Linked DNA regions of Homo sapiens: region 2 is linked to region 1. Evidence: fine-mapped expression QTL. Tissue or cell type: whole blood. Region 1 holds a variant in brackets; the other region holds the start of a gene. All regions are shown on one strand. Distances are from middle to middle.

Region 1 (4,350 bases):
AAAGTTGACAAAAATACGCAATGGGGAAAGAATTCCCCATTCAGTAAGTGGTACTGGGATAACTAGCTAGCCATATGCAGAGGATTGAAACTGAACCACTTCCTTACACCATATGCAAAAATCAACTCAAGATGGATTAAAGACTTAAATGTAAAACCCCAAACTATAAAAACTCTGGAAGATAACCTAGGCAATACCATTCTGGACATAGGAACGGAAAAAGATTTCATGACAAAGATCCCAAAAATAATTGTAACGAAAGCAAAAATTGACAAATGGGACATGATTAAACAGAATTACCATTTGACTCAGCAATCCCATTATTGGTTATATACCCAAAGGAATCTAAATCATTCTGTCATAAAGACATATATACACAAATGTTCACGGCAGCACTATACACAATCGCAAAGTCAGGGAATCAAACTAAATGTCCATCAGTGGTAGAAAGGATAAAGAAAATGTGGTGGCAGGGAGTGGTGGCTCATGTCTGTAATCCCAGCACTTTGGGAGGCTGAGGCGGGTGGTTCACCTGAGGTCAGGAGTTTGAGACCAGCCTGGCCAACATGGAGAAACTCCGTCTCCGCTAAAAATACGAAAATTAGCCAGGCGTGGTGGCGAGCACCTGTCATCCCAGCTACTTGGGAGGCCTAGGCGTGAGAATCGCTTGAACCTGGAAGGTGGTGGTTGCAGTGAGCCGAGATCCTGCCACTGCACTCCAGCCTGGGCAACCAAGCGAGACTCTGCCTTAAAAAAAAAAAAAAGAAAATGTGGCACATATACACCATGGAATACTATGCAGCCATAAAAAAGAATGGGATCATGTCCTGTGCAGCAACGTGGATGGAGCTGGAAGCCATTATCCTAAATGAACTCACTCAGAAACAGAAAACCAAATACCACATGTTCTCACTTATAAGTAGAAGCTAAACATTGAGTACACATGGATACAAAGAAGGGAACCGCAGACACTGGGGCCTACCTGAGGTCGGAGCATGGAAGGAGGGTGAGGATCAAAAAACTACCTATCTGGTACTATGCTTTTTATCTGGATGATGAAATAATCTGTACAACAAACCCTGGTGACATGCAATTTACCTATATAGCAAGCCTACACATGTGCCCCTGAACCTAAAAAAAAAGTTAAAAGAAAAACGTTTGGATTATTTTCCCTCTTTCGAACAAAGACATTGGTTTGCCCAAGGACTACAAATAAACCAACGGGAAAAAAGAAAGGTTCCAGTTTTGTCTGAAAATTCTGATTAAGCCTCTGGGCCCTACAGCCTGGAGAACCTGGAGAATCCTACACCCACAGAACCCGGCTTTGTCCCCAAAGAATAAAAACACCTCTCTAAAAGCTGCTCTTCCACCTTTCTTTGGGTTCCGCACTGGTTTTCCAGGGCCAGGAATGGCAGCAGCCAGGACCCCAGGATAAGGGCAGTGCCCAAGGAAAGGGGAGCAGAAGACATTCAGGGAGGGGGAAAGAAATGAGGCTGGGACAGTGGATAAGGGCCAGGTGAAGGGGAGAGGGGCGGCTTCTGAAGGCTTTGGGCAGGGAGAGTGGCTGGGGGAAGCCTAGTAATGCAACCTATCCAGCGGCGGCTTCGGAAAAAACCCGGGGCTGGGTCAGGATGGGAAAGGCAGCGAACTGAACCGTTTTGAGCCCCAAGTTCGGGGCCGAATGTCTTCCCTGTGCGCAGAAGCAAGGGCGGGGGCGTGCCATCCTCACCCGGAGCGCCGGCCGAGCCTCCCGCCTCCCAACGCCTGGCCAGGGCCCCGTCTCGCCCTCTGCACATGGGATCCACTGACCAGGCAACTGCAGGTTTGGGGCTCTGCGACCCGGGGGCAGGAACAGAGCCTTGCAGGCGGCAGCGCGTCACAAAGGCGGCCGGAGCTTGGCATTTAGCTTGGGCCAGAGCAAGGCGCAGACCCGGGGCGCCCATGGAGTTGGCGTCGGAGCAACAGCTGCGCGGGCGGAGCAGGTAGGCGCGCTCCAGTCCCTGCAGCCCGAGCGGGGTTCAGCGAACGGGTAACGGGAGAATGCGGGCCGGAGCAGGCTGGGGTGGCGGTGGGATGCCCCGAGGCCCGCGGCGGGGAGGCGGGCTGCTCTCATCACCCCCTCTGGGAAGCATCTTTGGCTGCAGGAGTTGCCAGGCCAACTCCCCCTCCCGCGGTGGGTAGGACATCTTTAGATTTCCCTCCCTGGTTGGCAGCTGTGTG[A/T]TATGGTGGACCAACCCTGGGTTCGAATCCTATCTCCCCACTTACTACACGTTCTCCCTGGGAAACTTTATTCACCTTCCAACACCTCCGTTTCCGTATTTGTGAAATGGATGTGTTTGTATTCCTATCTTCCTTGGCGGGACGTTGCAGAAGTACCTCGGCACCAACTTTCTTATTAATGGCAGCCAGCTCTTGTATAGCGTTTACTACGTGGCAGGCACTCACTGTTCCCGGTGCTTTCCAGGTATCAGCTCACTTAATCCTCCCAACACTAAGAGAAAGGCACTATTATTACCCCATATACAGATGTGAGGATTCACACATAAAGAAATTGACTTGCCTAAGGTCATCCGACTGTAATGGGCATAGCTAGGATGCAGCCCACTAAGCTACACTGCCTCTGATGGGGTCTCGGGGGGTAAGGGGAGGCTCCCAGTCATTAAATAGAATTTGGAGTCTCCTTACAGCAACTCTTCCAGACACACATATTCTTCCAACCCCACCCTTACAGCACCAGTGTCTGATGACTTTTCCTGACCTACAACCTTGCTAGGCCAAAAGGTTTCATGGAGCTTTTATTTACTTATTTATTTTATTATACTTTAAGTTCTGGGATACATGTGCAGAACATGCAGGTTTGTTACATAGGTATACATGTGCCATGGTGGTTTGCTGCACCCATCAACCTGTCATCTAGAATTTAAGCCCCGCATGCATTAGGTATTTGTCCTAATGCTCTCCCTCCCCTTGCCCGCCACCCCCCGACAGGCCCCATTGTGTGATGTTCCTCTCCCTGTGTCCATGTGTTCTCATTGTTCAACTCCCACTTATGAGTGAGAACATGCAGTGTTTGATTTCCTGTTCCTGCGTTAGTTTGCTGAGAATGATGGTTTCCAGCTTCATCCATGTCCCTGCAAAGGACATGAACTCATTCTTTTTTATGGCTGCATAGTATTTCATGGTGTATATGTGCCACATTTTCTTAATCCTGTCGATCATTGATGGGCATTTGGGTTGATTCCAAGTCTTTGCTTCGTGGAGCTTTTAAACTGGTTTATCTCTTCTGCAGCACCTTTTAGGAGCTTTGCTTGGTGGTGAGTGCTGTGGAGATCCCTAGCCTTGGGCAGTTTGCAAGTGATTGAAGAGACCTATTTCTTCATTTGTTAAATGTTTAAGTACCTTCTCAAAAGCAGAAGGAGGTTGTCAAGGGGTGTGTGGGTCCCTTGGGAGAGAAAGGCAAGGACACAGATTATACAAAGAGGGGCACTGGCAAGAGGTAGCAGAAGGAGGCAAGCTAAATACGGACACAGCCATGCTGGGAACCACTAGGGCGCCACGTCATGGGCGGGACGGGCTGCTGTTCAGTCCTTTACGGAAGTCTGTTCGGATGTGGCGGTGGGAAGGCCAGCTGGAGACAGGGGCCAAATCAGTGAGTGGGTGGTGAGAGAAAGTGATGGCGTAGTGAGGACAAAGCCTGGAGAAGGTCCCTAGGGAGGCCCACAACTGTGCTTACTTGAGGATGCTCACTGCCACTGTGGTGTTGGTGGGAGCTGGAGGAGACTTGGGGTCCATCAAAGGAAAGAGGATGGGAGACAGGCAGGATACCTGCCATGGGTTCTATTCAGCTGCTAGACGCAATGGGTGAAATGTACACAGAGCCACAGGAATAAGTCCGACAAACAGTAAGTACACATTTGGCAAGCACACATACAGACAAAAAGACACACGTCAAACACACTTGAACAGTTGCCTATGGTGGGGGCAACGGAATGGGACAGAGGGTTAAAATGGAACACATGAATAAATAAAACTAGAGAGGGGTCTTGCACAGACGAATAATGTCAGTCCTGAATTGGGAAATGTGATTCACTTGCCCCTGCACCCTTGTGGTCCAAGAGGTGGGGACAGGAAAAAAAAGTACAGAAGAAAGAGTCAAAAAGCCCAAGTTCCAGTCTGGGGCCCGATACTAACTTGCTGTGAGACTATAGGTGAGTCCCTTCACCTCTCTGGCCTTCAGTGTTCATCTGAAAAGAAATCAATTCTCAGGTCTCTTTCCAGCACCACAATTTTATGAGCCATGATCAATAATCTTGGGTTTATCTGGTAAAGTAGTCAGTGAGAGCTTTAAGG
Region 2 (4,175 bases), 20 kb before region 1:
AGTCTATAGGAGGAAACATCTTGGAAGAAAATTAGGATGTAGATGAGAAGCAACTTATGGTCACTTCTAATTCCACTCCTATCCCCTGGCCACACATTCCATTCCTCTAAGGTGTCCAATCTATACACCCCTGCCACCACCCCTATCCCATCTCAGCAGGAGACAATATGTGAAAAGAAAGTTCTTCATTTTTCCTTCTTTTCCATTTCTTTCTTCCTGTCTTTCTTTCTTTTTTTTTTTTTTGTAACAGAGTCTCGCTCTGTCGCCCAGGCTGGAGTGCAGTGGCGCGATCTCGGCTCACTGCAGGCTCCACCCTGGGTTCACGCCATTCTCCTGCCTTAGCCTCCCGAGTAGCTGGGACTACAGGCACCCGCCACCTCGCCCGGCTAATTTTTTGTAGTTTTTAGCAGAGACGGGGTTTCACTGTGTTGGCCAGGATGGTCTCAATCTCCTGACCTCATAATCAACCCGCCTCGGCCTCTCAAAGGGCTGGGATTACAGGCATGAGCCACCGCGCACAGCCCTTTTTTTTTTTTTTTTTTTTTGAGACAGAGTCTCGTTCTGTTGCCCAGGCTGGAGTGCAGTGGTGCAATCTCGGCTCACTGCAACCTCCACCTCCTGGGTTCAAGCAATTCTCCTGCCTCAGCCTCCTGAGTAGCTGGGATTATAGGCAAGCACTACCATACCCAGCTAATTTTTGTATTTTTAGTAGAGACGGGGTTTCACCATGTTCGTCGGGCTGGTCTCGAACTCCTGACCTCGTGATCCGCCCACCTCGGCCTCCCAAAGTGCTGGGATTACAGGCATGAGCCACCAAGCCAAGCCCACTCGTTTTTCATTCTTGATATTGACAGACTGCCCAGAGACAGACAGGAGTGGGTAGTGAGGGTCAGAAGGATTAAGGAGCTTGCCTAGCCGATGAGGAAGGGAACAAGATAAGATGCAAACCTCAGTCTCTGACTCTCAGCCAAGTGCTCACTACCCCAACTAGCTGTCAAATGAGGTGGATGGGGCCTTGGTTAGGTACATAGACACCTGAGTCATATCAACCTGGTGTGAATCCCAGCTCTGATGTTGAGCGATTGGCCTAGCCTCTCTCTGCCTCCATTTTCTCTTTTTTCATTTCATTTTTCTTTTTTGAGGCAGAGTCTCACTCTGTCACTGCCTCTGTTTTCCATAGCAAAATGGAGTTAATAATGCTTACATGAGGGATTAAAACGAAGACAATGCCTACCTAATGCTTAGAATGGTGCCTGGAACATAGGAACAATGTTGAAACAGTCTTTCATTCTTCCCTCCTATCACTGTGATCATCAGTACCACCACACACTGCTTCTCATTTAGTGCCTGAATTTTAGAGCCTGCCTGGAGGCTGGAGCCCTGCCTGGACATTTCCCTTAATCTTGTTATCCTCCTCAGAGAGGCGGCACCCACCCCATTGGCAGACGCCACGGGAATTCTCTGGGCCTGCTTGTCATCACTCCAGATGTTGTTTAGAGTTCTTCTGTTAGCACAGCTGTTTCTAGGGTCTGGAAAAACTCTAAGGACCCCCAGGAGGATACACACCAGATTGGGTCTGGGCTCACACCACCCTGCATCCCCAGAGCCTCCCTGGACGCTGTTTGCAAGGTCCTCACCGCCTGGAAGTCCAGGAGCCATTTTTAGGGAACAGCATTCAAGCTCAACATGGCAAGTTCCCTCTTTCCTGCAGGGGAGGACCAGAAGGGAGCCGGAGATGGGGGAGAAGGGTGGGAGGTGGATGGTTTGGAAAAGGGATGGAGACCCAGACGGAGAGAAGCCAGCCAGCCAGGGTGAGGGAACAAGCTGCTGTGCTGCCCAGGAGAGGCCTGGCCTCAGGCTGCCAGCCTCAGGGAGGTAGATGCGGCTGTGACAGCAGCAAAGAATGACGGCCAAGGGCGACAGCAGGGGCTGGCCATGCTGTAAAGGGGCTTCTTGGGAGGGTCCAGCCTCAGGAATCAAGGGGAACTCCTGAGCCGAGAATTCTGAAGATCTCCTCCCTCCCTGAAGCTGTGGGCTGGGCCATCGGAAAACTTTCAGTTTTGTTTCCTTGCCTGCAAGAAACGAAACTCAACCGAAAGCCTGCAGAGAGCAGAACATGGAAGGAGACTTCTCGGTGTGCAGGAACTGGTAAGAAAGTGCTTTCTCCAGCGGCAGACCCGGGCTGGCGAGGGAGAGACGTAGACGACATAGGGCTGTTTCTGAAGGGAGCAGAAAGTGGTTCCTGCATAAGAACACTTAGGAGGACAAGCAGCTGGAGACCGTGGGCCCCAAGGGTAGGAGGGTTTAAACTTGGTAATCTCTGGGTGGGGGTGGGCAGCATTACCTCCACTTCACTGCAGCCCCTTTCCCCCAAATGTTAGGCTTTCTGGGACAGTTCTGAAGCCAAATAGCCCGGCCAGTGGTCCCAACTGGGCTACTCATACTTGTGAGACCTTGGGTCCTAATTTGGGGTTCTGATACTATGACCTTCACACCCATCTGTGAAAGAAAGTGTCCCACGGAGATTCTCCAGGACTACTCTCACCCTCCTTGGAAAGGGAGCCGTGGGGCGGGGCAGGGGGGACAGAGCAGGGGGCTGGGACCACACCTCTAACGGGAGGGGGGGCGCGGAATCTGACCGATCAAAAAGCCCCATTCTCAAAGCTCCCTACCTGTGACAGGGACCTGAGTGGACCCTCCCCAGAGAGCTTTGCTCCAGCCAGACCCTTCAAGTACTCTGGTTTCTCAACCAGCCCAGGAAGAGCAGGGGGAGAAGGGGCCAGGTCAGGCAGAGGAGAGAGAGCAGAGGAAGGGAAGATGATGCTGCCTGTGTGCCCGCTGCCTGGGCAGAAGAGGAGTGAGGCTTTGACAGTCCCTCTCGGAGCACGTCCCCTGTGCCAGGAACATGGGCATGTAACTCTTCTCGTCCCCTGGGCCTTTACGGCTACAGCCACCCCATTTCCCTTCTCCCAAGCTGCCACAAGCAAGAGCTGATGGAAATGAAAGGAGTCATTTCTTTCTTTCTTCTTCTTTTTTTTTTTTTTTTAAGATGGAGTTTCGCTTCTTTTTGCCCAGGCTGGAGTGCCTGGAGTGCAATGGCGCGATTTCAGCTCACTGCAACCTTCATCTCTCGGGTTCAAGTGATTCTCCTGCCTCAGCCTCCCGAGTAGTTGGGATTACAGGCGTGCACCGCCATGCCCGGCTAATTTTGTATTGTTTTAGTAGAGATGAGGTTTCACCATGTTGGCCAGGCTGATCTCTAACTCCTGACCTCAGGTGATCCACCCGCCTCGGCCTCCCAAAGTGCTGGGATTACAGGCATGAGCCACCACACCCAGCCAAAAGGGGGCACTTCTTGGCAAAAAGGACGGTTAGAGAAAAATGCCCTGCCCAGGAAGTGGGAGGCTCAGAACCCTTCCTTCACTGTGGTCTCCAGGAAGAACCTCGGAGTCTCTGTGAGTTAGCGCAGGTGAACCTGAAGGCAGGGGAGACTTGGGAAGCTCTCGCTTTGGAGATTTTGGAAGTTGGCATGGCCCTGGCAGGAAGCGTGAGCCTAGCAGGGCTGCGTTCCTAACACTGTGGACCAAACAGGGGCACCAGAAAACAAGAAAAAAGATTCAAGAGAATTTGGCACTTCTCTCAAATTATTTAAATTGAAATAATTTAATTATTTACATTATTTAAAATGAAATGTTTCATTTTAAAAACAGCCTTATAGAGGTATAATTGACCTACAATAAACCTCACATTTTAAAGGGTAGCAATTGATAAGTTTTGGCCTAAGTTATATACATCCATGAAACACCATCCCCGTAATTGAGATAATGAAGCTTCCTGTCACCCCAAAAGCTCCCCATGCCCCTTTGTAATTCCTCCCTCCTGCTCCTTCCCATGCCCTGCCCCAGCAATGTAAGAGCTCTGTAGATCATCCTTATTCTTATTAGATGCTGCCTCACTGTTCTGACTTTTGGACCCACACAGGGAGTGTGGGGCAGGTGGTGTCATCATCATCACATGTTCAGTGCTTAAGGCCTCTGGAGATCTAGCCCTGGGTATGAAATACAGCTCCATGTTTTATAATATGAAAATAAGTCTATTTTTCTATCCCCACACCTTGACCCTGTAGTAAAAGACATGTAGTCTCTGCCAACTTCACCCTCCATGAGGCTTACTGC

What was found. PIP is the estimated chance that this variant, and not a neighbour inherited with it, causes the effect.
Region 2: it holds the start of XAF1, and the variant in region 1 is fine-mapped to the expression of XAF1 in whole blood (TOPMed, PIP above 0.99).

The regions. Positions count from the first base shown.
Region 1 is chr17:6,774,291-6,778,640 of GRCh38, forward strand. It overlaps XAF1 (XIAP associated factor 1), which reads left to right. Exons shown (of 7, transcript NM_017523.5): 7 at 1-1,357. It overlaps FBXO39 (F-box protein 39), which reads left to right and starts at 1,925. Exons shown (of 4, transcript NM_153230.3): 1 at 1,925-1,982. LOC124903905 (a long non-coding RNA gene) reads right to left here and starts at 1,820. Exons shown (of 3, transcript XR_007065594.1): 1 at 1,730-1,820. The variant A/T (reference allele first, on the strand shown) is at 2,221.
Region 2 is chr17:6,753,963-6,758,137 of GRCh38, forward strand. XAF1 (XIAP associated factor 1) reads left to right here and starts at 2,084. Exons shown (of 7, transcript NM_017523.5): 1 at 2,084-2,148; 2 at 4,127-4,175. The coding sequence starts at 2,117. RefSeq lists an enhancer at 1,741-2,260.